Linked DNA regions of Homo sapiens. The protein of the gene in region 1 interacts with the protein of each later gene in a pairwise test. Each region holds a gene or a part of one and is shown on either strand. Other genes may lie near its edges.

Region 1 (7,801 bases):
CGGTGCCTGGCACAGGAGGGGCCCCGCCTCCCGCCAGCCTCTTCCTAGTGCAGACATCACTGCTGCCTAAGGATGAGTCCATCACCATGAAGACCCAACGTTAGCTCCAAACAGCTTCATGGACACAGCTTTGGAGAGAGTGCCATTTTAACAAAATCAAAGTCCTGATACAGGAACATGTATTTTTGCAGTACATCTTGGCAGTCACAGTAATGGCTGTCTCCGCATGAGCATCTGATGTTAATGCTCACTCTGAACCACTAAAACACAAAGGGTGAGCCCCGTGTGCCACAGCCAGCCCCCACGTAGGTGAGAAGGCTTTAGGATCCAATCATATATGAGGCCCGTGTTTCTTTCTCATGCACTTATGGGAACAGACAAAAAACTATGTTTAGAAAAGATGCATTATTGAAGAAATTTTAATTTAAAAAAAATCAAAAGAAAAATTGAACAGTGCCTAAATCTTTATTTTCATAACCTACATTTTTTTTCAAATTAGACAGTTTTACACTGAATGACACAAAAGGAAACTTAAATTACCAATAGTTTACATGTAAGCTTGATTCCAGTCTTAATGAAGCAGAACAAAAACGAAACCCTCGAGGAGCGACCACATGACCCCCGCGCTGTGAGCTGCTGGCGGCCAGCGCCCTCGCCTCGATTGTCTGCAGCCCTGTAGTGGGCCGCGAGGCACGCAAGCCGCAACTACAGCTCGCCAGCGGGGCACACAGACAGGCATGCACCACCACTACCCGTCGCCCGGATACACTGAACTGGTTTTGAAGCCTGAACTGCAGAGATCCTAATATAGCAACGCAGGACGTTTACGGCCACCCGCCAGTGACAGCCGGTGATGTGATGACAGGAGGGCCTGGGTGAAAATGTCAAGACACTCACTCTCAGAGAACGACGACTCCACTTGAAATTCATGTCTGGTGAAACGGGACCAGGTTTTTATTCTTCTATTTCAAAATGATAAGCATCATCACACGATTTTACAAGTTAAAATGCCATTTGTCACTGCTGCATCTCTGATTCTATAACCTGAGATACTGCTGGGGGTAAAGGAGGGTGTTAACTTAAAAAAAAAAAAAGTATGAAAGCCACTCTCATCGCTGTATGTGACACAGCACAGTTGGCATGGACCGCCACAGCTTCCTATTATGATAACTCTCATTTTCTTCTGAGCAGAAACTCTTGAAGTAGTATCAGGTTTTTTCAGACATTATATAGCAATCTGTATTTCACCTTTAATTAAAAAGGATGCTATAAAAATCACCTCCGAGCAACGTTTCAGTTCTTGATGCAGAAGACTGCTGCTGGCTAGGCAGTAACTACAGTGTATTGACCGGAGGGCAGCAGAGCCCTCCAGTGGCGACTGGCTAATGCACGCGCTGCCCTCCTCATGCAGCTGTTGAGCTCCCACTTCGGTCGACAAAGTGAAGGACTAAGCTGGCTCTAACCACACACACACACTGCGCTGCAATGCTCACACCTTGGGGGAAAGGACTTCTCATTATTAAAAACCAAGGACTCACTGGCGGACGGGCAGGCCTTGTGTTTTGGGAATGGCTGATGGCGCCCTGGCCCTTCCGTAGCGAAGATGCAGCTCGTAGGCCCAGGCCTCGAGGTTGCCTCCCAGCTTTCTGAGTATTGAGAGTTTGGGTTTCACAGATCAATTATTTCTGATTTTTTTTTTTTTTTTGGTCAGTGAACTGACAACTACAAAAAAAAATCCCCATGTTCTTTAAAATGCATTTGAAAAACACTAGCCCTGTGGCTATTTCTCTGTATTTGAATAATGGCAACTGCTTTAAAGGAAATGGTCAAATAGGCATGTTTTCCTCTGGCAGGGTCAATCATGCTTAGCTGCAGGTGATTTAAATTAGATTACTAGTCACCTTCACTTACGATCCTGCCAGTTTTTGCTCTCTATATACTTTAAAACTCTTTCACATTAGATATGATTAGTATGCATTTACATACATTTTAAAAGAGTATGAAAACATCTGGAGGCTTTTAATAAGACTTTCCAATTCCCTTTTGCAGCAAAGAGGCAGAATCAGTTCAACACACCGATGTAAGAGAAAAAAGAAAATCTCAACAAATCAAAATAATATTCAAACCACAACATTTAGTTTATCTACATCCCGCTCAACAGCAACATTTATAATATATCAATAATCTGTATCAGAATTTTCTCTGTAGGGTACCTTTTTCATATGTTCTGATTATTTACAACTGTACAAGCGAAGCACACTCCAAGTGCACGTATTTAATACAGTATTGACTATTTGCATTTACAGGATTTTCCAACATTCTGAAAAAAGATCAACTGTTGAAGATCTTTAAGGTATATTACAAAAACTACTACTAGCTCTTGTACTACAGTATGCTTACTCAGTAAAACTAGCGACAGGAGATCCACGCAGTAACTGAGTAACTCTGACCCACTCACGCCAACCCAGGGCCGGGCTCCATGGACTCTAAGCTGTCTTATACAAAAGTTAAGGCAAAGTCATTTTCAAGTTTAAATAAAATTCAAGTCTTTAAATATTGGATGGAAATAATTTTTTCTTAAAAAAAACCCTCAGTCTTGTTAAATAACATTTTGTGGAATAAAGTGTATGGTTACATTTAGCAGGAAATATTCTTATTTTAATGTTTGCTGCTTAGAATAAAGAAAAATTTGAGGCATTTTAAAACAAAATAATTTATATTTAACTTTATTATAAACTTGCTAACTTTAGTGCATCCTTGTTCTTCAGAAGTGCAGCACTTCTGGAAGTGAATCAATGAGGCCCTCGTCTTGGAGGTAAAAGAGCAGGAACTTTATCCTCCACCAGCCAAAGAGGGGGAAAAACCACAAACACCATTCTCTCACGATTACATAACTCTTAAATCCATGTGCTGATGCAGAGGTACAGGGAGATGTCCACACGGAGCTGAAGATGTGGACTCTCTCCAACCAGAGTGCTGGGGAACACGGACAGAAATGTGCACAGAGCAGGGCCGGGGCCATCAGCTCACAGGGGTCAAAACAACATCATGGTACAACTTCTGGTAACATGTCAGTGGGCAACAAAGTGTATGTTTTCATGTAGGTTCTATTCACAATGTGCTTTGAATTTATATTACATAATAGCCACTTGAAACTGGAGTGAGAAGCTGGTTACTTGCTTGCAGTGCATCAGAACCAAGGTTTCTGGGGTGGCCCCTGCAGGTTCACTCCGCCCAGGAGATCAAAAAGGATGCGCTCTCTACATTCTTAAATGCCACAGTCCCCTACCAACGGCTTAGGTGGAAGCACAGCTCCCACATCAGCACTGATGCCCTGGCGCGGCCAGCACTGCCTCTACGAGGCCACACCTGCCTCTGCCAAGGCCACTGGCCCTCATTCATCTGCGGGGACGTTCTAGAGATATGCACTTACAGACCAGTTACTTAAAAAAAAAAAAAAAAAGCAGAGTTCCCTTAATTTAGAAAAACTCACTATATATAGCTTGCATTCAGAGCCACATGGAGGCTTAATAAAAAATACCAATTTGTTAGGATAAATGCTTTTTCTATCTTGGAAAAAAAAATCAGACTTATGCATCACCTCCAGTTAAGCACCAACCTAAAATAAGGTTTGTATTAATTAAATCCTGAAAAATCGATTTTTTTTCAAGAGGGGGAGAATCCAACTCACAGAAGAAAACCAACTTGAGGATCCCACAGGCCTCAGACACTGCAAGCTCCTAACCAGCGGCTCGCCCTCGCACTGAGTGGGAGAGTGTCTCGTTTGTGGTTAACACAGCGCTCTGCGACCCCTCCCAGACGTACGGTTTTCACTGAGGAGACTTGGGGGGAGTGCTCTGCTCTCGGCTGAGACGCTTCCCCATGGCCGAGGGCGAGGGCCGGCCCCCCGCCGGCCGCCTCTGGTCTCTGGGGGCTCCAGGTGTGGACTTGAGGGCTGGGGGCTCCCGGTATCTCTCTGCGGGCTCTGCCAGCTTCTTTTCCTCCTTCCCACAACCAACAGTGTTTGGCTTTTGTTCTTTTTGGGGTTGCAATGGGGAAGAAGGAGGCTCTTTACTCGTTCTCTGACAAATCTCTGCGTAGCTGGGCTTTCGCAATTCCTGGAAACAGACAATCCTGGGTTACCTGTGTGAAATGGTGTCTCTAGGGACAAGACAGGAAATCAAGTTCACTTAAGATAAAAGAGTTTTCAACTGTAACTAAGTTTCCATCTTCACTAGTGTTTTTAACTTTTAAAAAGTTCATAAAATCTAATGATTTAGTTTCCCCTGCAGCAGAACACTCCCTCTGTGCTACTGTAGTAATGGATAAAATTAGAAAAGGCATGACGAAGAAGAGTGCTGACTCAACACCATCCCTACCCAGCCCTATGCCTGCTTGGGCAATGCGGAAGCCTAGGAAGAGTCCGGATGCTGCCCACACTGGCTCCGCCAGCTCAGGACAACAGAAGGGTGTCCCAGGTGCCCACGGTGGGCAATGGACCCTCACACGGTACTCAACCCTGAAAGGCAAACTCCAAAAACAGTCTTTAAATAAAAATGTTTTGCACATTTCAAACTACAAAGGACTGGAAATATCTAAGAATGATGAAGACAGCTAAAATCTTCAAGAAATGTGTAATAGGGTTTTCAGGTAAGTGGAAGCATAAAGACTAAATAACAGAAAAGTAAAATATTTCCCTTAATAACTTTTTTTTTTTTTTTTTTGAGACACAGTCTCACTCTGTCGCACAGGCTGGAGTGCAGCAGTGCAATCTCAGCTCACTGCAACCTCTGCCTTCCGGGTTCAAGTGATTCTCCTGCCTCAGCCTCCTGAGTAGCTGGGACTACAGGTGCCCACCACCAAACCCAGCTAATTTTTTGTATTTTCAGTAGAGACAGGGTTTCACCATGTTGTTCAGGACTGTCTGGATCTCCTGACCGCATGATCTGCCTACCTCGGCCTCCCAAAGTGCTGGGATTACAGGCGTGAGCCACAGCACCTGGCCTCTTTTATTATTATTATTATTTATTATTAAAATTATTAATTTTAACCTATAAAAAATCCTTTTTTAGACTCAGCCCAGGGGACAGTAAGGGATTAAACTCCCAAATTCAAGGAAAAGGCTCCCCCAAGATCAAACTACAGAGGCCACAACTCAGAGTAAGAGAGGCCACAGTTCACCCAGTAGGGAAAACAGCAGAAAGGAAGTCGCTGGGGTTCAGGCCTGCTGGGCCCACAGGGGTTGGAGGCTGGTGGGGCCACCATCTTGCTCTTCCTGTCTCTTCATCAGACACACGATGCGCGCGCACGCACGCAAACATACACACACGCGCGAAATGCTGAAATGATCCTAAAGTCTATGGAGAAACAGGAGCTGGGGTCTTGTTACTACTCAAGAAACCTCTATTGACCAACACTGAAATAAAAGGACTACATGGTGGTCTGAGAAAGAACTAGAGTAGTTAGTGGAAAATTATTAGCAAATATTAAAGGTATTTTGTACAGAAAACACAACACAGACAGACGCAAATAAAAACCCACCAAATTAGATGTGATTAAAAAACGAGCAGGTGCAGGAGTGCGCAGCGTCTGTTCACACCAGAGCCTCGCGGCTGTCGTGCAGGAAGGCAGGCACGAGGTACGTACCGTGGCGGCTCCGTTCACCTGCACCGATTTACACGCGGTCGCAGTGAGGGCGGAAGGAAGTCTGTCCACACTGTGGGTTTCCCTCTGTTTCTCCGCCACCTTGGGATCACTGTAAAAATGCCACCCGATATTTGAATCTCATGCAACATCACAGGCCATTCAAGTCAGTCAACACCAAGGCGCTGGAAGAACACCAATACTCACTCGGGTAAATGAGCTGGGGAGGGGGATCGCTCGTACGTTGCTGATACAGCACAAGAAGCCGGCACCGAGGGCTCTCTGGAGACCACTACAGGAAGGGTGTTCACGCTTGCGTCTGCACTGAGGGTCTGAAACAGGGTCAAGAGTGTTCATCAGAGTCCTGCCGGCACTAAGCGGAGCTGGTACCAGTGCCCGTTCACCCCACCCGTGAACAGCCTTGGGAGAGCAGCACAAGGACATAGGGGAAGAGGGTCTTCTCCAGCAAAAATGTCACAGAGCCCAGGACTATCCTCTGCCCCACAGATCGCCCACCCTTCTCTTTCTCGGCAAATGCCCCACTGTTCTTACATCACAGGCCCTTATCTCCTCTCCCGCAATGATGATCTACAAGCTTATTTCTTAACTGAACAGGCATCAAACACATCTCACCCACCTGGCACTTTGGGCCCAGCACGGCACGGCACAACACCACATGCATATCTGCTGAGTGTCGAATCCTAACACAGTCCAACACAACTCATTCACACCGCTGAGAAAAAACAATCGGCGCCTCCACACCCATATAAATGTGAGCTCCCAGCCCTCCCTGAATTCACAACCCCAGGAAGCAGGTGTGCGAATGCCCCCATCTCAACAGGTGAGGAAACTGAGGCCCAATACCTCTAAGTTAATTTGCCCAAGGCCAGGAAGCAAAGGACGGAGTGAAACTTACTCCCTCCTTACTCCAGCCAGCGACCCCTGTGCAGGGGCTATTTCATGTGTGCTTGATCTTATACATATGGCATGTGATGATACACTTGTCATGCAACTTAAAAAAGGCAGGAGGGCAGGTGCTCTTTACACTTCTGCCCTTAGATGAAGGCTGACGACAGACCTAGAGCCCTTCCAGCTGGAGAACCAGAATCCGCTGCAATTCCTGCGCTCGACCAGCAGGAATCCAGCTTGGTGGAAACAAGAGGGCAAAGGACTCCTTTTGTAAAAGCTCATTTTAAATTCAGGGTAGGGGCCGGGCACGGTGGCTCACGCCTATAATCCCCGCATTTTGGGAGGCTGAGGTGGACGAATCACCTGAGGTCAGGGGTTTGAGGCCAGCCTGGCCAACATGGTGAAACCCCATCTCTACTAATAATACAAAAATTAGCCGGGTGTGGTGGTGCATGCCTGTAGTCCCAGCTACTCGGTAGGCCGAGGCAGGAGAATCACTGGAACCCAGGAGGCGGAGGTTGCAGGGAGCCAAGGTCGTGCCACTGCATTCCAGCCTGGGTGACAGAGCAAGACTCTATCTTAAATAAACAAATTAACTAATTAATTCAGGATATGTGCAGTCCCAATGCAAATGAAATGCAGATCCACAACTGCAGGTCATGAAGCAAGTCAGAGTGACCATCACGAGCTCCATGTCAACAGGGGAAGGGCTGAACCCCATCATTTCTGGAGCCTCCACCCCACTTTGAAACCCAAGGGCCACGCTGTTGACTCAAGAAGCTCCCAAGAAGCAGCAATGGAGCCCACTACACCTGGGTGGTGGCATAAGGCTCAGGGTCAGGCTTTTCAAAGAAGCAATTCTTTCTTCAAGAGAAACCTTACACAAGACTCAAACTGGGCACAGCAGGAGCTGCTGTTTCTGAAGCAGGGTTGGAGACCTGCCTCTTCTCCTCCACTCAATACCAACGGGAGTAGGCTACAGTTGGAAAACTAGAATTCATGATCTTTAAACTGCATTTCTTCTCAAGGCACTAATACCTTAGAAATGACGGTGTGGAAATTTAAGGCTAATGTGACAATCCTGGAATGTACTCAATCTCCAAACAGGAGCATGACCATCTACCAATATGAAAAGGACTAGACACGTCACCTGGCTTTCATTGTAAAGATACTGCATCAAAATCCACCTTAAATTCTGCCCTAGGAAGTGAGGAATGGTTCTATCTACTGCGGGGCCTTCCCTAAAGCC
Region 2 (7,677 bases), on another chromosome or scaffold:
AAACAGTCGGGGAAATCACAAGGCACAAAGAGCTACAGGGACACGCATTCACCAATGCACAAATAACCTGTGGGCTCCACAAGCCCAGGGAGACCAACAGCTTCACGGTTAGTCATGTGTCTCATAAGCACCTTGTCTCTTTTCTGCCTTCTTCCCAAAGGGGGCTTTGAACACATGGTCTTTCCTGCTGGCTCTTTTGCTTTTTTTTTTTTTTTTTTTTTTTTTTAAAACACATGGAGTTTTGCTCTTGTTGCCCTGGCCACAGTACATGGTGCAATCTCAGCTCACCGCAACCTCGCCTCCCGGGTTCAAGCAATTCTCCTGCCTCAGCCTCCCAAGCAGCTGGGACTACAGGCATGCACCACCACGCCTGGCTAACTTTGTATTTTTAGTAGAGATGGGGTTTCACCATGTTGGCCAGGCTAGTCTCGAACGCCTGCCCTTGGGTGATCCGCCCACCTCAGCCTCCCAAAGTGCTGGGATTACGGGTGTGAGCCACAGCGCCCAGCCTCCTGCTGGCTCTTTTTCTTAAGTTTCTCCTTTTGCTACCAAACATGAATGTGCCACCTTCTTTCCTGAACATATGACCTCATCCTTGCTTCCTTTCTGTAGCCTAATTTGGGTTATGATCTCACCTACTGCTATCCCAAGCCTGGCTAAAAACTCTCTTCCTCCTTTGCCTCATCTCATCAGTACCTCAAGGACCTAGGTGCCAAAACCCTCAGGTCTGCTCGTGTTTTGTTTTTTTTTTTAAGACTTTGCTCCCTAACCAGGTTATGAAAATTAACATCTTTGACCCATGAAATAATACATTTTAACTCAGCCTCTATATAGTGAAAGTGATTAAACTAGTTTGCTGTCAACTTGTTTCTCCTCTTCACCAAAGAACAACAAAATTCTAAATTCTTCTGACCTTACGTACACTTCCGGTTCCCTAGTCTCAAAAGGCTTCTTCTCAATGATCACCTTCAATTTGCCTTCTCTATTCATTCCCTTTCTTTTTTCTTTGTGCTTTCTTTTACCAATAGCTCCTTCTCCACTGTAGGTCTGCTCCAGGCACCACTCCATGAAATTCTGGTTCCATTCCTCTAAACATGCCTGTTTTTTTCCCCGTATCTGTATGATTCATAAGAAAGTTCTCTTTCCCTTTTCTCTTATTGTCACCTTTCACAAATGCTTTTGTCCATTGTTATAAAGCAACTTTTTGGTCTGAACACTTCAGTGCACATGAACTTTGCTGCCTATTTCTTCCAACCAGGTTCCAGTTCTTTGGATCTGAAAAGAGCTTTCTATATTACATTCTGTTCTGTTTTTCCACTGTGACATCCCAGATATTTTCCTGAAACAAGGAATTCAAAGTGCCGGTATTACCTGAGTTTCCAGTGGTGCTTCTGAGCAGCTGTAGTAAGTGTCCTCCCGGCTGGCTCGGGAGCCTAGAAGATAGAAACAGGAATGGAGTAAGCGGCTGCCTGACCTCTAATTCTCCCCAGGGTCACCATGAAAGGTAATTCCAAAGCATTAGAGTATACACGTCCTTGCCTCATCTTCTTCTCCACAGGTAAACAGTACATTTACCCAGAGTGCCCAGGCAGTTGAACAGAGAGAAAAACACCTCTAATGCTCCAACTTGTAAGAAGACATCCCTGAAAAAAAATTTCCATGTATCAAATTTCATTGGTTTTCCGTAACATCATTTCCCTAACATCTACCTGTGCCTGTTCCCCAAAGGTTAAATTTGCTCCAATCCAAATTTCAGATAAACGCACAAATAAAAATGGAAGCTTTAACACTGTTCCCATATGAACAATGGGAAGCAGGAAAAATCAACTCTATGGATTTCCCCTTTATTCTGGGCCTATGAAAACATAAATGTGGAGTTATTTAAATGAAAAAAAGCAGCAGTAGATGAAAAAGAACAATTATTTATGTTTCTGGGGCAGAAAAAGAGGTCAGGGGGGAGTCACTCAAGGAGAAGACTTATTAAGAGATTTTCAGGGTTAAAAAAAAATGAGCATATGTGTGTGTGTATGTAAAATTTTCTGAGTGACAGTATACCAAGTGCTGAATCAGGTATGAAAGAAACTGAAAATATTGCCTTGGTCCTCAGCTGGCTAACACTGGTGAAACAAAACTACCACTAAACCATCACTATGTGAATCTACACTTGCCAGAAACGCAAAGCGAGAAAGAATGGAGCCTTAACCTCTGAAAACAGAGAAGGCAGTACAGATGAGTGAGTGCTCTGAGAAACTGACTATCCTGTCCAAGTCCTATAGAACACTCTAAGCCTCAACCCAAACCGAATGCAACATTTCTCTCTTAAGATTGGCAAGGTGCAGGTGTACACAAAAGGTGGAAGGATAGGAAAACACAGTGGGAAAACAAATTCCTAATTCCACAAACACATATTATTACACAGTGGCATAAATAATGACTCTTTTCTCCACCAGCAGCTTTAATAACTGAAAAGCAGCTTGCTTTCTTCTTCATTCCCAACAGAAACTGGGGTCACACTTCAATCCCAAAATGATCCTTGCTTTCTGTAACGAAAACTTTAAAGAAAACCTGCCTCCAGGTCACCGAGAAGTTAGCAAACACAGGCTAGTAAAGGGACCGAAAGAGGCAAAAGGTCTGCAGAAAGGAAAACAAAGAGCCAAGCCTGTGCGCCAGGTTCCCACAACGCAAAACACACTTAAGAATCCGAAACCTCCGCCTCTCGAGAACCTCACTGAGCATCTCAAAGGGAAAACGCAGCTTGTGACCCCAACCGAGCTAACAGGCTGTTCAGGAGAGTTGCCAACGCTGCTAGCAGAGCCCGGAACCAAGCTCCTCATCACGCTTGGGTCGGAATCAAGGGGCTGAACCCAGCTGGAGACCCAAATTCTCTGCGGGCGAGAGGTGCGCCCGACAGAAAGGGAGAAGCTTGTCAGAGACTACGGTTATGGCTCCCAGTGGTCCCGCAATCCTTGATCCAACAAGGGTAGGGCTCGAAATTGGGAATTCTGCGTTTAGAGAGTAGGGGGTCCACCCTTCACCAAGGGGGCAGGGGCGAGGCCCTGCAGGCGACGCTTCCTTGTTTGGGGGCCCTTCCCGCCCCACAGACTCGGACACCTTGGCTCGCAGGCACACAGCCTCCGGGGCGCCGGGGCCTGAGGCCACCTTCCAGGACAGGCCAGAGAGAAGCGCGAGGGGGTCTAGGTGCGGCCTCTCCCCTCCGTCTGTCCACGGTTCATGGGCCCCGGCCCGCCGGAGCAACGGGCTCCTGAGGGCCACTTCCTCCGGAGCACCGACCCCAGGCCTGCCTGGCCCCGGCGGCCACCACTTCCAGGGACACTCACCAGCCCATTTCACAGCGCTTCCCAGGATCCACTCACTCGTCCCGGAGCCGCCGCAACCGCGGCCGCCGCCATCCCCGGCCCCGGAGCCGCCCCACACCCAGCGCCCCCCACAGCCGGGCGCCCGGAGATGGCGTCAAGCTCGTCCCGCCCCCGGCGCGGAGAGATTGCGTCACGGCCGGGGTGGGAGAGCAACGCCCAGGACTCCCCGGGAAGGGAGGGTGCCACACTGCCTTCGCGTCGGGCGTTCCCTCTGGTGGGTGAACAAACTCCTCTCCCTGGGACCGGGTCACGTGAATAGGGCTGGGCCCGGCCCCCTCAGCCTGACCCCACAATGACCCCGCAATCTTTCCACCTCAGTAAATTTTGGGGGTTCCCAAACAGAGCCCCGGGGCGTGGTCATCGGCGACCCCCCATTTCCTGGACTTCTTGTCCTGACTTGTGCAGCCCCTTCTGGGGAACTTCGGGGGACCCCGAGGTGACCTAGGCTCAGGAGAAAAGGAGATACCTCTTACCTCTTGGGGACCCAGGTGGAGATAGGAAGTCTTCTTTTTTTCTTTTCTTTCTTTTTTTTGGAGACAGTTTCGCTCTTGTTGCCCAGGCTAGAGTGCAATGGCACGATCTCGGCTCACCCAACCTCCGCCTGCCAGGTTCAAGCAATTCTCCTATCTCAGCCTCCCGAGTAGCTGGGATTACAGGCATGCGCCACCACACCTGGCTAATTTTTTGTATTTTTAGTAGAGACAGGGTTTCTCCTTGCTGGTCAGGCTGGTCTCGAACTCCCGACCTCAGGTGATCCCCACACCTCGGCCTGCCAAAGTGCTGGGATTACAGGCGTGAGCCACCGTGCCAGGTCAATAGGAGCTCTGTAAGTGTTGAGAAGTGGCCCCCGAGGGAGCTAAGAGTGAACCCCACTCAGGATCTAGGGGAAGGTGACAAGGAGTGGAACACCTGAAAGTTTAGAGAGAGCCCGGGGTTTAGTACAGTGAGAAGCAGCTTGGTTTAGTGGAAAGAGGGCTTGACTACTCAGTGAAATATTATTCATTACAAATTAACTAATTATTCATTACAAATTAACTGGTCAACTTCATAGTAACATGAACATCTGATTAACTTAAGTGAAGACAAAAGTGAGCGCCAGTTGAATTTATGTTTGAATAACAACTGTGTTTTTGTTGTTGTTTGTTTTAAAGTATTAGGTTGGTGCAAAAGTAATTGCGGTTTTGGCCACCGAAATGGAGACTTTCAGTTTCTTCAAACTCTGTTCAATAAATAACAATTGGGCCAGGCGCGGTGGCTCACGCCTGCAATCCCAGCACTTTGGGAGGCCAAGGCCGGCGGATCACGAGGTCAGGAGATCGCAGACCATCCTGGCTAACACGGCGAAACCCCGTCTCTACTAAAAATACAGAAAATTAGCCGGGCATGGTGGCGGGCACCTGTACTCCCAGCTACTCGGGAGGCTGAAGCAGGAGAATGGCATGAACCCGGGAGGCAGAGCTTGCAGTGAGCCGAGATCGTGCCACTGCACTCCAGCCTGGGCAATAGAGTGAGACTCCGTCTTAAAAAAAAAAAAAGAAAAAAAAAGATATGTCATTGCAGTTGCGTGTATGTGTGTGTGTGTGTGTACATATAATTTTTTTTTTTTTTTAGCCCTGTCGCCCAGGTTAGAGTGCAGTGGTGCCATCTTAGCTCACTGCAGCCTCAAATTCCTGTGCTCAAGCAGTCCTCCCACCTCAGCCTCTGGGGTAGGTGCGATGATAGGCATGCACTACCATGCCCAGCTAATTTTTTAAAATTTCTTGCAGAGACAAGGTCTTGCTATGTTGCCCAGGCTGGTCTTAGACTCCTGTGCTCAAGTGATCTTCCCTCCTCGGCCTCCCAAAGTGCTGACATTTCAGTCATGAGCCAACCACACCCAGCGTCGGTTGTATGTATTTCTGTGTATCTGTACAGAAAAGGAGTAGAACACATAACTAATTAACATTGGTTATTTTTGGGAAGGAAAGTGGAATTGGGTGGTGGTCAAAAGGCAAAGAAACAACTTATATTATTGTTTGAATATTTAGGAGAATATTATCTTAGAAATAAAAAAAGTAAGTTGAGATCCAGATACAATGCATGATCTCTAAGATTCTTTCTAGGGAAGCCTTAGATCTCAATTATATTTTCTCACCTGGATGGACACATAGGGCCATAAAAAATTATCAAGTACCACACAGACACACACACAGACACACACACACACGCACACATACACACAGCACAAATGGGAAAAAACATAGTGAAGTTACTGCTGTCATCTAAATCATCTGAGTGTTTTGCTTCATTAATATTAATATTGTTCATGACAGTCTCCTTCTCTCTCAGTTTGGCCAAGAAGGAAGTCCTGTGGTCACTCAGTGTGTCCGTTTTAGCACTAACTAGCATTCTGGTTTCTAGTTCATTTCTTAGCTCACTAAACTGGCATTAAAATAGTCAAGATAGGAACCCTTGGACTATCCAAGCATATTCAAGGATAGCTAGTTTCTCCCAGATCAAGATATACACTCAGAGCTGGGTTTTCTGTACAAATTTGAAAGAGTAGACACAGGTAGATGTAAGCAAAAAAAAAGTTTTATGGCTACCAACCATTAACATAATGATGTACATGATACAAAAGCATGTCCATTAAAAAGTAAAAACAGGATGTTCTGATTGGTGAAACACAGGTGATTTCCGGGTTTGGCACTGCAGTCCCAAAAGGGTGGGTCATATGTCCGCTGTATCCCATTCCCAAACTCTTTACTACTCTGAGTAATCTTTTTTTCTTTGGTTGTATATCCTGATGGTAGAAAGCTCCATAGCAACAGTTTGACAGGTATATTAGTGATAAGTAAACTAATAAAGTTTTTAGATTTATGGCACAAAAATAACCAAAAGTTACCTAATTTATCCAAATATCTGTATTATTTTTCTGGAATCTGGGTAACACCCCTATTTAAGCTATTTATATTCAGTAAACCAGGCCGGGTGTGGTGGCTCACGCCTGTAATCCCAGCACTTTGGGAGGCCAAAGCAGGTGAATCACCTGAGGTCAGGAGTTCAAGACTAGCCTGGCCAGCTTGGTGAAACCCCATCTGTACTAAAAATACAAAAATTAGTTGGGCATGGTGGCCTGTGCCTATAATTCCAGCTACATGAGAGGCTGAGGCAGGATAATCACTTGAACCCAGGCGGCAAAGGTTGCAGTGAGCCGAGATCGTGCCACTGCACTCCAGCCTGGGCAACAAAGTGAGACTCTGTCTCAAAAACACAAACAAACAAAAACTGATAAAGTAAATGTTTTTTTGTTTTTGATGTGTTTTAGGTATTTGGGGTATTTGGAAAATGATAAGTTAAACTTCAATCTGTTTTGTCCACTTCTTCCCTTTCCCTGGATTCCTACTGAATTCCATTGTTGTGTATAGATTGAATTTTTGTGATGGAAGAGCTTGAGCTGCTCTGTTGGAAGGAAAACAAAAATAAAACCCTGTTAATGCTGGTTATTTTTCTCCCTGAGCAGTCAGGAGTTGCAAACTAGCTCTCTGTGTTACCTAGTTCTCACTGGTGACATTTCTTGTCCTGTAATACAGGGAGAGGAAACTCAGGAAACTACCCCAACTCTTTTTTGACAATGCAGATCAAACCAGAGAGAAGCACTGGTAACTTGGGAAACCATGCGTGTCATAACAAGAGGAGTAGGTGGCGTCTTTCATACTGTCATGTCTTCCTGTTTGTATACTTGAGCATGTCAAGGTGTCATTTTAGGAAAGGAACTTTATCTTTGGATGCCAATGGCAGAAACAACAACAAACCAGCCAGGCGCGGTGGCTCATGCCTGTAATCCCAGCACTTCATGAGGCCAAGGCAGGCAGATCACTCGAGGTCAGGAGTTCGAGACCAGCCTGGGCAACAGGGTGAAACCCTCTCTCTACTGAAAATACAAAAATGAGCCAGGCATTGTGGCAGGTGCCTGAATCCCGGCTACTCGGGAGGCTGAGGCAGGAGAATGGCTTGAACCCAGGAGGCACAGGTTACAGTGAGCTGAGATTGCACCACTGCACTCCAGCCCCAGTGACAGAGTGAGACTCTGTTTAAAAAAAAAGAACAGCAAATCCCAAGAATACACTGAAATTGTACTAGGCCAGGTGCAGTGGCTCACACCTGTAATCCCAGCACTTTGGGAGGCCGAGGCGGGTGGATCACGAGGTCAGGAGATCGAGACCATCCTGACTAACACAGTGAAACCCCATCTCTACTAAAAATACAAAAAATTAGCCGGACGTGGTGGTACGTGCCTGTAGTCCCAGCTACTCGGGAG
Region 3 (7,801 bases), on another chromosome or scaffold:
GGGTTCAAGTGATTCTGCTGTCTCAGCCTCCTGAGTAGCTAGAATTACAGGCGTGTGCCACCATGCTCAGCTAATTTTTGTATTTTTTTGTTTTGTTTTGTTTTGTTTTTTGAGAGAGTCTCACTCTGTCATCCAGGCTGGAGTGCAGTGGTGTGATCTCGGCTCACTGCAACCTCCATCTCCTGGGTTCAAGCAATTCTCCTGCCTCAGCCTCCTGAGTAGTTGGGACTACAGGCGCATGCCACCATGCCCGGCTAATTTTTTGTATTTTTAGTAGAGACAGAGTTTCACCATGTTGGCTATGGCTGGTCTCAAACTCCTGACCTCAGGTGACCCACCTGCCTCGGCCTCCCAAAGTGCTGGGATTACAGGCGTGAGCCACCGTGCCTGGACTACTTTTTATCAACATTTTGTTTTCCTACAGATTCTTCATTTAAACAATTTTTTTTTTGAGATGGAATTTCGCTCTTGTTGCCCAGGCTGGAGTGCAATGGTGTGATCTCAGCTCACCGCAACCTCCACCTCCCAGGTTCAAGCGTTTCTCCTGCCTCAGTCTCCTAAGTAGCTGGGATTACAGGCATGCACCACCACATCTGGCTAATTTTGTATTTTTAGTAGAGATGGGGTTTCTCCATGTTGGTCAGGCTGGTCCCAAACTCTTGACCTCAGGTGATCTGCCCGCCTTGGCCTTTGGGATTACAGGCGTGAGCTACCGCACTTGGCCACAATATGTTGTTTCTAAAAATTATAAAGCAGTATATTGTAAAATTTTTCAAATGTTTGATCAAGGTATAAAATTCATTTCCTTATACTATACCACATGTTAATTGATCCAGGGGTAATCACAATTAAGTTTTTATTGTATCTGCTGAGATACTTTCCATACACACGTAAGCATATACATATATACACACACACACATTATTGTACACTTAATTTATGTCCTTAATACATTCTGAAGCACTTTCCATATCAGCACGTTGAGATCTAGCTCATTGGTTTAAACATCTGCATGTTTCATTTTATGATTATACAAAAAAATTTTTCAGCAGTTCCCTATTGATGGATATTTACATATTTTTGTTTTGTCTGACATGACAAACATTGCAAATGTACATCCTTTGTCTCATGATGAATCATGCCTTGAGTCTCACTCATATCTGATTTAGATGAGACTTTGGACTTTGACTTTAAAGTTGATGCTGGAACAAGTTAAGACTTTTTAGGGGCTATTGGGATGGAATGAATTTATTTTGCATGTGAGGACATGAATCTGGGGAGCCCAAGGTGTGGAATGCTATGTTTTGAATGTGTTGTCTCCACAATTCATGTGTTGGAAACTTAATCCCAATGCAACAGGGTTGGGAGGCGGAGCCTTCTGGGAGATGATTAGGTCACAAGGACTCTGGCCTCATATTTGATTGATGCCATTATAAAAAGGGTTTGCGGGAGCATGTTAGCTCTCCCTTGCCCTTCCATCTTCTGCCATGGGAGGACAGCAAGAAGGCCCTTCCCAGATGCTGGCACCTGATCATGGTCTTCCTGGCCTCCAGAATTGTAAGAAGTAAATTTTTTTTTTTTTTAACGAAGAAGTGAGTATTTTATTATTTTGCTGTACAGCTGTTGCTTCACTATATAAAAACAGCACCAGCAAATGCAGTGTATTGCAAAATTAAGATAGTGTTGTTCTTCATCTGACACTGTACAAGCAACAAAAACTTCTTCACTCCCAGTTATTTCCAATGGAAAGATCATTAAGTATTTCATCCCAAGTCCAGGTATGGACATACACAAGTTACAATATTATATAAGGCTTAAGAATAACAACATTATCTTTGAATTATGTAATTTTTGTAACTAATTTTTACCATGGATAATTTCATGGATAATTTCATGAATACTAGAGCCTAGTCTAAAAATCATAGGATGTTGTGAAAAAGACACATATTATGTTTATCTACAATCATTAGAAAGTTAAAAGGCATCTTCTTTCATTAGCAGTGTTAACAGTAGTTTTTTTTTCCCATGGGTAATGCTAAAAGTTGCTATTCTAAGTCTTCTATCCACCACTAATTTAGGACAACTCTGCTGGGTTGCGTTATTTCATACTAGCTTATTTAGTGGTTCCATTTTCACTCCTCAATAGATTTTATGTATTTCTCATATGCTTCTTCACTCATAAGTTCATCTAGTTATGAAGGGTTACTCAGTGTCATCTTGATCAGCCAACCATCTTCATAACGAGATTTGTTTACAAGTCCTGGATTTTCTGCAAGAGCTTCATTAATTTCGGTTACTTCTCCTGATAAAGGAGAATAGAGTTCACTAGCAGCTTTCACACTCTCCAAAGCACCAAACTCATCTTGTTTGTTCAATTTTGTCCCAACTTCAGGCAGATTACAGTAACCAGACGGCGCCCATCCCAAGCTGCCAGGGCCTCGATAGGCAGGGCGCGGCAGGTGCCAGGACCACGTGCAGGCTGCAGAGCACGGCCCGCACGCTCCGCACCACTCGCAGCGCCATGTTCCCAGGGGTGCGGGGATGGCAGCGCTACGCCTCAGCCACTCGCGCGGGGAGGCGGGGCGGTGTGGGCAGAAGTAAATTTCTTTATAAATTACCCAGTCTGGGCCTGGTGTGTTGGCTCACATGTGTAATTCCAGAACTTTGGGAGGTCAAGGTGGGAGGAGCGCCTGGGCCCAGGGGTTCAAGACGAGCCTGGGCAACATAGTGAGACCTGTCTCTATAAAATATTTTTAAAAATTAGCTGGGCGCGGTGGCTTACGCCTGTAATCCCAGCACTTTGGGAGGCCGAGGTGGGCAGATCATGAGGTCAGGAGTTTGAGACCAGCCTGACCAACATGGTGAAACCCCGTCTCTACTAAAAATACAAAAATTAGCTGGGCATGGTGGCGCACACCTGTAATCCTAGCTAGATCCTAGTAGATTGAGGCAGGAAAACTGAACCCGGGAGGTGGAGGTTGCAGTGAGCTGAGATTGTGCCACTGCACTTCAGCCTGGGCGACAAACTGAGACTCCGTCTCAGAAAAAAAAAATAAATAAATAAAAATTAGTGGGGCATGGTGGCTCACACCTGTAGTTCCAGCTGTTCAGGAGGCTGAGGCAGGAGGATTGCTTGATCCAGGGAGGTTGAGGCTGCAGTGAACTGTGATCATGCCACTGAACCCCAGCCTGGGTGACAGAGTTGCCTCAATCAGTCAATCAATCAACCCATCACCCAGTCTGTGATATTCTGTTTTAACAGCAGAAACAAAGACAACTAGACATGCCCACTGTGTTATGTACTTACCTCTATTAGAATATGTTATGTCATTACTATAATTGATGCCTACATATCTCTTTTAGTATACTGTTAGCTTCTTGAGGACATTAGCTAAATTGTATTTCTCTTTGTAGTCTTGGGTAATGTACTTGACACACAGTAGATACTCTGCAAAAAAATTTTGTTTTTCTTTTTGAGATGGGGTCTCGCTTTGTCGCCCATGCTAGAGCGCAGTGGCGCGATCTGGGATCACTGCAACCTCCGCCTCCCAGGTTTAAGCAATTCTCTGACTCAGCCTCCAGAGTAGCTGGGATTACAGGTGTCTTGCCACCATGCCCGGCTAATTTTTGTATTTTTAGTAGAGATGGGGTTTCACTATCTTGGCCAGGCTGGTCTTGAACTCCTGGCCTTATGAGAGCCACCGCACCCAGCTGATACTCTGCAAATGTTTAATAGATGTTGGAGCTGAATTTCAGGCTTTGTAATGTCACAGAACCAGGCATCAGAAGAGCTGATCCAAACCCAAGATCTGCCCCTAACTTGCCTCTTATTCTTTCTGGCCTCCATTTCCACAATTATAAAATGCAGGTATAATACTAAAATTTTTTTTTGTATAGTCCTTTACAGATCCAAAATTATGATTTTAAGAAGGAAATTAATAAGTTATTCATCTCAGTATCTCTTTAGGTGCCAATACTGTAAATTAATCACCAGTCTCAGATCATATATTTGCCATTTCCAACATATGCTTTTAGTCCAGTCTAATCACCAGTCTCAGACTATACATTGCCATTTTCAACATATGCTTTTAGTGAGTTATTTAAAAATATTAAGATATCAGATGTTTTGAGTATCAGCAATAGGTAAGTCAATCTCTAAACATTTTCAGTAGTGAAAAACACAAAAAACACTTTAAGCAGAGGGTATTTGGTTTTGAGATCCTTGTTCTCTTAAAATCTGTGATCTGAAATCTAGTCAGTTTTCTCATTAACATCCTTGTCCCTTGGGATAAATTAAATCAGCAAACTAAAGTGCTATGTAACTATTAAAATATTTTAAAATATTGGTTATTTAAAACTTATTAGGGGCCGGGTACAGTGGCTCATGCCTGTAATCCCAGCACTTTGGGAGGCTGAGGCAGGTGGATCACTTGAACTCAGGAGTTTAAGACCAGCCTGGGTAACATGGCGAAACCTCGTCTCTACAAAAAATACAAAAATTAGCCAGGTGTGGTGGCGTGTGCCTGTAGTCCCAGCCACTTGGGAGACTGAAGTGGGAGGATGGCTTGAGCCCAGGAGATGGAGGTTGCAGTGTGCTGAGATCATGCCATGCATTGCACTCCAGTCTGGGTAACAGAGCCAGAATCTTATTAGGGAATTCTGACATCTTCATCTTTTTATAAAAGATGGCCAGGCTGGGTGCGCTGGCTCACATCTGGAATCCCAGCACTTTGGGAGGCTGAGGCGGGTGAATCACCTGAGGTCAGGGGTTCAAGACCAGCCTGACCAATATGGTGAAACCTCATCTCTACTAAAAATACAAAAATTGACTGGGCACGGATAGCTCACGCCTGTAATCCCAGCACTCTGGGAGGTTGAGGCGGGTGGATCACCTGAGGTCAGGAGTTTGAGACCATCCTGCCCAACATGGTGAAACCCCGCCTCTACTAAAAACACAAAAATTAGCTGGGCGTGGTGGTGTGCTCCTGTAGTCCCAGCTACTCAGGAGGCTGAGGCAGGAGGATCGCTTGAACCCAGGAGGTGGAGGTTGCAGTGAGCTGAGATTGCGCCACTGCACTCCAGACTGGCAATACAGTGAGACTCAATCTAAGATAAAACAAAGAAACAAAAAGGAATGCACTTCTTAATAAGCTGGAGATTATTTTAGGCATGGCTTTCCCTCATAGTCTATGAAATTTTCCTACAATGATCATCCTCAGTTAGCACATGGGGCATTTAGTATATGTCAGGAAACAGGCCTAAGGTTTTTACAAGCTTTCTGATGTAATCATCAAAACAATTCTATGAGGCTGGAAGTAGGTACAATTTTACAATTTTTATCCTCATTTTACAGATGAAGAAATACTCTTAAAGAAAATGTTAATGTCAACAACAAACAATAAATTGGTACTGGGTATTGTCAAATATATTTTTTAATTTTTACTTTTTTTCAGACAGAGTCTCACTCTGTCACCCAGGCTGGAGTGCAACGGTGCAATCTTGACTCACTGCAACCTCCGTCTCCTGGGTTTAAGTGATTCTCCTGCCTCAGCCTCCTGAGTGAGTAGCTGGGATTACAGGCATATGCCACCATGGCTGGCTAATTTTGTATTTTTAGTAGAGACAGAGTTTCACCATGTCGGACAGGCTGGTCTCGAAAACTCCTGACCTCAGGTGATCCGCCTGCCTCGGCCTCCCAAAGTGCTGGGATTACAGGCTTGAGCTACTGTGCCAGGCCAAGTATATTTTTAATTAATGTATTCATTATAATACAATTTACTACAAATTTGAGGGGGGAGGCTTTCCATATGGAATTCAAGATATTTTTGGATATATATTCAACTTTTTTTTTTAAGAGTTGGGGGTCTTGTTATGTTGCTGATATGGTTTGGATGGCTGTCACTTCCAAATCTCATGTTGAAATGTAACCCCCAATGCTGGAGGTAGGGCCTCGTGGGAGGTATAGAATCATGGGGCAAATCCTTCATGAATGGCTTGGCACCATCACCTTGGTGATGAGTGAGATCTTAGTTCATGTGAAATTTGGTTGTTTAGAGTCTGGGACCTCCTCCTCTCTCTTGCTCCCTCTCTCACCATGTGATATGCTCGCTCCCATTTTGCCTTCTACCATGATTGTAAGCTTCCTGAGGCCCTCATCAGAAGCAGCTGCTGGTGCCATGCTTTGTGTACAGCCTGCAGAAACTGTAAGCCAATTAAATCTCTCTTTTGCAAGAATTACCCAATCTCAGATATTCCTTTACAGTAATGCAAACAGATTAAAACAGATTAGTACTGACAGTGGGGCACTGCTATACATATTGGAAAATGTAGAAACAGCTTTGGAACTGGGTAACAGGCAGAGGTTGGAAGAATCTGGAGGGCTCAGAAGACAGAAAGATGAGGGAAAGTTTGGAACTTAGAGACTAGTTAAGTGGTTGTGACCAAAATGCTGATAGACATATGGTGAAGTCCAGAGTGATGAGGTCTCAGATGGAAATGAGGAAGTTATTGGGAACAGGAATAAAGGTACATCTATGTCATGCTTTAGCAAATAGCTTGGGTGCATTGTGTCCAGGCCCTAGGAATCTGTGGAAGTTTGAACTTAAGAGTGATGACTTAGGGTATCAGGGTATCTGGCAGAAGAAATTTCTAAGCAGCAAAGCATTCAAGATGTGGCCTGGCTGATGCTAGCAGCCTACAATCAGATATGGAAGCAAAGAAATAACTTAAAGTTGGAACATATTTAAAAGGGAAGCAGAGCGTAGAAGTTTGGAAAATTCACAGACTAGTCATGTGGCAGAGAAGGAAAAAGCACTTTGAGGAGAGGAATACAAGCAGGCTGCAGGAATACAGTTGTCCATGCTGGACTCAACTCATTTGCTCAAGCAATCCTTGTGCCTCAGCCTCCCAAGTAGCTGGGGCTATAGCTTGTGCCATCATGCTCAGCTATTCACCTTACATTGCTGTCCAAAATGTTTTCATTTGAGGCAACCTGGGATAGTAAAAGTACTTCTAATTAAACACTCCTGCCATTAGTATCTAGCTGTGTAGCCATAAATAAGTTATTTGATATTTCTTGAGTCTCAATTAATACCTACTATTAGCAGAGATTTTGTGAAGAATAGTCTTAATGTATTTAAAGCTTTAATGGCACTTATTTAGAAGGTCCTCAGGAAATGGTATTATTATTCCAAGGTCTTTCTAGATTGCCTTATTCACCTAAAGAGACTTGATCTTGAGCCTTTGTAGATTTTCTCATTGGTGATTCCTTCACTGCTTAGAATGTCATGATTCCACCAGACAGGTTACTCTCATCTACGTGTATTTTTCTTACATCTTTTTCAGTCTATTTTTCTCTAGCAATTATCTTCAATGTTTATGCTTACAATAACCTTAGTATTTGGCATTACGACACTAATATGTGCCCATGAGACAGACGGAGCACTACTTATCCCAGAGGAGGTATTATTTATTTATTTATTTATTTTTTGAGAGGGAGGCTTGTTTCTTCACCCAGGCTGCAGTGCAATGGTGTGATCTCGGCTTACCGCGACCTCCGCCTTGACTCTCAGTTCAAGCGATTTTCCTGCTTCAGCCTCCCCAGTAGCTGGGATTACAGCCATGTGCCACCATGCCTGGCTAATTTTTGTATTTTTAGTAGAGACAGGGTTTCACCACGTTGGCCAGGCTGGTCTCAAACTCCTGACCTCAATGATCTGCCCGCCTCAGCCTGCCAAAGTGCTGGGATTACAGGTGTGAGCCACCGCGCCCGGTCCAGACAAGGTATTTTTTAGAGATTATG

Evidence for each region. Proteins that work in one complex are often made in the same cells at the same time.
Region 2: the proteins of LARP4B (region 1) and ATXN1L interact in binary tests that used the Homo sapiens proteins (3 or more experiments, as listed by UniProt).
Region 3: the proteins of LARP4B (region 1) and NDUFS1 interact in binary tests that used the Homo sapiens proteins (3 or more experiments, as listed by UniProt).

What each region holds. Positions count from the first base shown.
Region 1 is NC_000010.11:809,096-816,896, forward strand, and holds the end of LARP4B (la-related protein 4B), read right to left. Parts: intron 5,976-7,801; coding exon 5,851-5,975; intron 5,756-5,850; coding exon 5,647-5,755; coding exon of another isoform or gene 5,542-5,646; intron 4,162-5,541; coding exon of another isoform or gene 4,119-4,161; coding exon 3,831-4,118; 3' UTR 402-3,830; downstream 1-401. UniProt on the Homo sapiens protein: Stimulates mRNA translation.
Region 2 is NC_000016.10:71,841,766-71,849,442, reverse strand, and holds the start of ATXN1L (ataxin-1-like), read right to left. Parts: upstream 3,468-7,677; 5' UTR 3,339-3,467; intron 1,434-3,338; 5' UTR 1,372-1,433; intron 1-1,371. UniProt on the Homo sapiens protein: Chromatin-binding factor that repress Notch signaling in the absence of Notch intracellular domain by acting as a CBF1 corepressor. Binds to the HEY promoter and might assist, along with NCOR2, RBPJ-mediated repression.
Region 3 is NC_000002.12:206,113,978-206,121,778, forward strand, and holds the end of NDUFS1 (NADH-ubiquinone oxidoreductase 75 kDa subunit, mitochondrial isoform 1 precursor), read right to left. Parts: 3' UTR 840-7,801; downstream 1-839.